2 linked regions of the Homo sapiens genome follow. The protein of the gene in region 2 interacts with the protein of the main gene of each other region in a pairwise test. Each region holds a gene or a part of one and is shown on either strand. Other genes may lie near its edges.

Evidence for each region.
Region 1: the proteins of DNAJC1 (region 2) and MT1H interact in a two-hybrid assay, tested with the Homo sapiens proteins (one study listed by IntAct).

The regions. Positions count from the first base shown.
Region 1 is NC_000016.10:56,668,611-56,671,629, reverse strand, and holds MT1H (metallothionein-1H), read right to left. Parts: upstream 1,817-3,019; 5' UTR 1,746-1,816; coding exon 1,718-1,745; intron 1,125-1,717; coding exon 1,059-1,124; intron 733-1,058; coding exon 641-732; 3' UTR 501-640; downstream 1-500. UniProt on the Homo sapiens protein: Metallothioneins have a high content of cysteine residues that bind various heavy metals; these proteins are transcriptionally regulated by both heavy metals and glucocorticoids.
Region 2 is NC_000010.11:21,881,481-21,885,508, forward strand, and holds part of DNAJC1 (dnaJ homolog subfamily C member 1 precursor), read right to left. Parts: intron 960-4,028; coding exon 802-959; intron 1-801. UniProt on the Homo sapiens protein: May modulate protein synthesis.

The sequences.
Region 1 (3,019 bases), on a different chromosome or scaffold from region 2:
GTAAAATGTAAAACATGGGTTCTATATTTTGTGCTTCATTATCTTCATAATTAATATTACTTTATTTACAAAGGTTTAGGTCTGGGATGGATAGAAAATGAAAACTGTCCCTTCACCGTGGAGTTTGAGAAGCCCCATGGAGGATTCAAGTAATTTAGGCATTGGAATCCACCTCCTGTGGCCAATTTCAAGCCTAAAATCTGCTGAGGAACTGAACTTGGGCAGGGAAACCTGAGAATAAACATGAGGAATGGAGAAGTCTCTGTACCACATTTAATATGAGTGGAGCTGATCGCGTATGTCCCCATCCCCATATGAGCCAGGACAGTGCAGGTGCCTTTTACAGAAGATGGAGGTCAGTGATGTAATGGGGCTCACCTGAAGGCGCTCAGACTGTTCAGCACTCACATTTCCATCCAGAGCCCAGTCTTTAAACTCCCAGTTCAATCTCCCACCCCAGTCCCTCATTCCAAAAAACACAACAGGAACCAGAACGGGAATCAAGTCTAAGTGTTTAATTATTATTCACATATTTCACAGAAAAAAAGGAATGTAGCAAATGAGTCGGAGTTGTAGAAAAAAAAAATCCTGGATTTTACGTGTCATTCTGTTTTCATCTGACAGCAGGGCTGTCCCGACATCAGGCACAGCAGCTGCACTTCTCTGACGCCCCTTTGCAGATGCAGCCCTGGGCACACTTGGCACAGCCCAGGGGGCAACAGGAGCAGCAGCCTGGGGAAAAAGGGAGAGAGAAGTCACAGCAGACTTGACCAGGGAGCTCCCTCTCCCAACAGCAGGCCTGGCTCAAGCTCAGACTCCAGCCCCAGAGGATCCTTAGTTCAGGATGGCACAGCTTTTTCAGGAGACGACTGGTGGATATTGGGGTGAGTCTTCCTATGAGAGACTGCCCAGCCCCACAGGAGCCCTGGACAGAGCAGAAGACTGGAAAGGCAGTGACGGCCTAGGGGGACAAAGGAAGCAGGCACTCAGGGCCAGCCTTGGGTTCCCTCCCAACCTTAGCCACAGCCCCAGATTCCTGGAGATGGCCCCGCACTCACTCTTCTTGCAGGAGGTGCATTTGCACTTTTTGCACTTGCAGGAGCCGGCGCAGGCGCAGGAGCCACCTGCAAGGAATAGAAAAAGCCAGTGTGTTGTGAGTGAGATGCAGAAGTTACAGCAGTGGGTCAATGAGTGTCCACTTCCCCCTTCTCTGTTCAGGGCCAGCCGTCAGAGCTCCTTTCCCACTCAGCAGAAGAAGAGAAGACCCATCTCCTCTCCATTCATGCTGGGAAAACCAAGCACCCTCCGTTTGTATTCCAAAGGTAAGTCCCAGGCTCCAGGCACAGCCCGGGAAGACTGCGACTTCGACTTTCTGTGCTGAACCCTGAAGAGGCAATGTCCCCACCTATCCAATGCCTCCCATCCAATCCGGCTGCTCAGAGCCTGGTTAGAGAATTGGGGCTCAGCCAGCAGCCTCGTGACCAACGGGGTGATGTGGAGCAGGACAGCCTTGAGCCTTAGGACCCTCAACTCTGACATAGAGGCACAGGGAAGAGGGACATGCTCTCAGGAGCTTGGCCAAGAGGAAAGCAGCGGAGGAAGTAAAGAAGTCCTCTTCAGCTCAGATCGCAAAATATGACCTCCTCAAACCCAGGGACACTCTCTATGGTGTCTGGGAATTTGGCATCCTAAGGCACAGAACCCGGGCGTTCCTTACCAGCCTCGCAGGAGCAGTTGGGGTCCATTGCAAGCCGAGGTGAGACTGGAGTTCCCAAGCGAGAAGAGAAGAGGCAGTGGAACACGTGGAGGGCGTGGTGGAGCGCAACAGTTGGCAGCTCCTTTTCTAGTCAGGGGAGGGAGCCGGGTGCAGAGACCCTGCCCCACCCTTGCACCCGACCCACTGAGTCCGAGCCGCCCGCGGTCCTGGGCTGGGCTGTGCGCAGCAGACGGGTCGGGCGCAAAGTACCCTGAGCGCAGGTCGGTGCACACCGCGGGGACGGCCCTTTCGCAGCGGCTCCCGCGGGAGGGGCTGTGCACCCGGGTGAGCTGCTTGTTTCACCCTGCCGGGCCTGCCCAGTTCCCTGAGATTACCTGCTACTCCCGCCCTTTGGCGTTCCGCGTGCCCCGAGATCCTGACCTGCGCCCCACACCCCGGGGCCTGCCCACCCCCTGTCAACAGCTAAGGCTTTCCTGGAGTCCCAGTGCAACCCCAGTCTCTTGTTCAATTGTCTGGATTGGTGGGAGCAGAGAGCACAGCGAGGGAGTAGTGTGCAAGGGACATGCCGAGGATGCGACCTTCAGATCTCTGGCATTGCCTGTTCCTGTCCCCGTCCCCACCTCAGTTCTTCGGCCACGTTTCTCCTGTGCACAGCAACACGGAAGACACAGGACCCTGCCTCCCTCCCATCAAAGTATACTTATTCATATCCCTCTATGTCTCTGTTTTGCTTCCAGGACTGACTGTAATGCTTGGTTTTGTTGAAAGATTTCAAGCAGTGAAGAGATAAACATACCTAGGCCATAGAGAAGCTTCATCACTGACCTCTCTACCTAGGGAAGCTGACAGGATTCACACCAAGCAGTGCCACTTCCCAGCTCCCTGACCCTGGGCTAGTGGCTTGAACTCCTCGTCATTGTCCAGATTAGGAATACGGGTTCGTGAAAAGGACTCATGTCCCTTTAGGGTTGCTGTGAGGGTTCAAAGACAGAAAGTGATTAAACAGGGCCAAACACAGACCCGTGTAACATAGAGTAATAGGAATATGGAAGGAAAAATAACCAGCGCTCTTGCTTTCTAATTTAATGCAGGATCTTCATATCACCTTCAATGATCCCTCTTCTAGGGACTTGCCACACTTTCCAAACTGCCATCCTGTAGTGGGGTACCCGGCTAGGCTGTGGGGAGACCCTGGAGAGATTTATGCAAAGGAGGACCTGGACAAATGGGCCCATTCAGCTCCTCAAGAGTGGAGAATAGAAGAGAGAGGCAGATCACTGTTTCTTCCGTGTTACTGAGCAC
Region 2 (4,028 bases):
ATGGTAGGGTTATTAATTGACCTAATTTCAATACTGCTGTGCCTTAGGGAGTAGGGAGACCAGAGGAGACGGAAAGAGACTAGAGGATGATTGATTAGTAGAGCAGCCAGAATATACATAATATTTACCAATTAAGTTTGCTGTCTTACATGTGTGCACTTCACGGTACCCCAAATAATTATAACAGTAACGTCAGAGGTCACTGATCACAGATGACCATACCAGATGTTATAGTAATGAAAAGTTTGAAATACCACAAGAATTACCAAAATGTTATATAGAGACACAAAGGAAGGAGATGCTTTTGGAAAAATGGTGCCCGTAAACTTGCTCAATTCAGGGCTGCCACAAACCCTCAATTTGTAAAAAAAAAAAAAAAAAAAAAAAAAACCGGCCAGGCACGGTGGCTCACACCTGTAATCCCAGCACTTTGGGAGGCCGAGGGGGGCAGATCATGAGGTCAGAAGATCAAAACCATCCTGGCTAACACGGTGAAACCCTGTCTCTACTAAAAACACAAAAAATTAGCCAGGCGTGGTGGTGGGCACCTGTAGTCCCAGCTACTTGGGAAGCTAAGGCAGGCGAATGGCATGAACCCGGGAAGCAGAGCTTGCAGTGAGCTGAGATTGCGCCACTGCACTCCAGCCTGGGTGACAGAGCGAGACTCTGTCTCAAACAAAACAAAACAATAGTATTTGTGAAGTGCAATAAAACAAAGCACTATATCGTGAGCTAACCCTGTATTTTATGTGCTTTTCTGTACATGTTTTACTCAAAACAAGTTTTATAAAGCTTATTTACCTGTTTTTTCTGTGTTCGGTTCCTGTTTTCCAACCAATCATCCATTTGTTCCTCAATTTCTTCTATGGAAGTTCCATGATCATAAGACTGAATATATGTAGTTTCTAAAGGTGTGTATACAGGAAATTCAGGTTTTGGTTTTTTAACTTTCTTCTGTTCTAAAAAATGTTTAAAAGAACCAATTATTGAGATTTTTAAAGAATAAAATTAATTTCTAACATTTTATTCATAGACCATATCCTGAAAGAAAACATCAAAATATAATTGTTCTGTTATAAATAATTGGCTATAACTTTTATTGTACATAAACCATTGCATTGTTTCTAAATAAAACTCAGAGTTGCTACTATTGTGGAGATGATCATGAGATAGCCATCATATCAATTTGCATACACCTTTGTTTTCAAAGTACTTTTCATAAAATATTTCATTTTGGCACAATAAAAAGAGCTTCAATTTAATATTGTAACCCTAACTTTACCATGTAATAAGTAAATAATACTGGGCAAATAAATTAACACTTAGAACAGTATCAACTTTCTCATCTATAAAAAAAACCTGGCTCTCACTAAATGGTATACATTTATTTTTCAATATTTTACAAAGGTGAAATATGATCTGGCAACATCAAGAGTAGTTATGAATCGATGGCCATCCATTGGGCTCTTTATTAAATCCCATTTTAGGCCTAGGAGCAGTGGTTCACGGCTCTAATCCCAGCATTTTGGGAGGCCAAGGCAGGTGCATCACTGGAGGCCAGGAGTTCGAGACCAGCCTGGGCAAAATGGCAAAACCCTTCTTCTACTAAAAATGCAAAAATTAGCTGCGTGTGGTGGTACATGCATGTAATCCCAACTACTTGGGAAGCTGAGGCATGAGACTCACTTGAGCCCAGGAGGTGGAGGGTGGGGTTAGCCAAGATCACACCACTGCATTCCAGCCTGGGTGACAGAGTGAGATTCTATCTCAAACACACACACACACACACACACACACACACACACACACACACACCATTTTAACTGGAGACTTGACATTGAGAAGCAACTCCATTCTTAATTACTATAGTCAAACTCAGCCTCATAAGAGTATTTTCACCACCCCATGTGTACGTGTGTATGTGTGTATTTGCATGTACTATACTGCCAATGTAACAAAATCAGTATATACTGGCATAGGAATAGACAAATTCCTAGAAGAGAATAGAGAATCTGTAAATACCAATGCTTGTTGACTTATTATGGGATTACATCCTGATAAACCTATCATATATTGAAAACATCCTTAATTAGAAAATGCATTTAATAAAACTAACTTCATGGCTTAGCCTAGTCTACCTTAAGTGTACTCAGAACATTTACATTAGCTTATAGTTGGGCAAAATAACATAGTGACACAGTACACTGTAGAGGATCAGTTTTAATCCTCATGATCATATGGCTAAGTGGAAGCTGCAGTTTGCTGCTGTTACCCAGCATTATGAGGGAGTATCCTACCGCATATTGCTAGTCCAGGAAAAGATTCCAAATTCAAAGTACAGTATTGTTTTTGCACTATCATAAAGTCAAAAAATTGTAAGTCAAATCATTATAAGTCTAGGATTGTCTATATTTCAATTTAGTGGGAAAACAATTTATTAAGTAATGCTTACACAACTGAGTATCCATTTAAAAGAAAACTCTTACACTGTATACACAAATAAATTCCAGATAGAGAAGAGAGTTGACTTTAAAAGCCAAAACAATAAAAATTTTGCAAAAAGAAATCTTAAAATCTACTTGTACTATTTAAAGGAAGGGGACATCTAAATAAGAATGAAAACCCAGATGCTGTTACAAAAAAGATAAAAGAGTAAACAAATCAAGAGACAAATAATAGATTTGGAAAGGATGTATCCAATTCAGAGTATAAACAGAAGATTGCTATAAACAGATTTTATAAATGGACAACCACCCAATAGAAAAATATAGGCAAAAGGTCATAAATGGGCAATCCACAATTGAGTGCCCACGTGGCTAACAAATAAGAAAAGAGGCTCATACACTCTAAAGGTTAAAGAAATACAAATTAAGTAATACCAAGATATAATTTTATACCAATCATATGGGTACAAATTTAAAATCTAATTCAGATGTACTGTTGGCAGGGAAAAGGCTACTTCTAAATTGGTGGAGGAAATGTATTATTCTATTAGAGCCTTTCTGGAAAGCAGTCTAAACATATCCATTAAAATTAACATATACAGCCTTTTCCCCAGCAATTCTCCCAGAAACAAAAGTACTCAAATATAACTGTATGTGGGTATGTATGTATTTGTGTGTGTATGACTATTTACTATTTCTTCATAGAGAGATGAAACTATTAACACAGTAAACACTATTAGGAGAAATGACTGAATAATTATTGATGATGCTTTTACAATGAGAAGTATGAAATCACCATTGAAGTAGAGCAATAGCAGAAGTAATTTGGGCTACATATAGAGAATCAGTTATTTTTTTAAAAAGCAAATAAATTCAATTGTTTGTATTTATTTCTGGGGTGTTTCATCACAACTGCAAGTGATGTCTTTTTAAATAAGCATTTATAAAGGGGCACTAAATACAGAAATGAAATACTGCTATAAGCTAATACAAAAATACACAGACCAGTGTCACTATAAATCAACCACACAAACAAGCCAACATTATAACCAGCTAACAATACAATGACAGGATCAAATCCACACATATCAATACTAACCCTGAATGTCAATGTGCTAAATGCCCCACTTAAAAGTCACAGAGTGGCAAGCTGGATAAAAAAACAAGACTCAATGGCATGCTGTCTTCAAGAGACCCATCTCACAAGTAACGATGCCCTTAGCCTCAAAATAAAGAAATGAAGGGAAAACTACCAAGCAAATGGAAAACAGAAAAAAGCAGGGGTTGCAATCCTAATTTAAAGATTAAAAAACACAAAAAAAGGGCAATACATAATGGCAAAGGGTTCAATTCAACAAGACTTAACTATCCTAAATATATATGCACCCAACACAGGAGGACCCAGATTCATAAAGCGAGTTCTTAGAGACCTAAAAAGAGACACAGACTCACCCACATTAATAGTTGAAGACTTCAACACTCCATTGACAGTATTAGACAGATCACTGAGGCAGAAAATTAACAAAGATATTCAGGACCCAAACTAAACAGTGAACCAAATGGATCTGATAGATCTCTACAGAA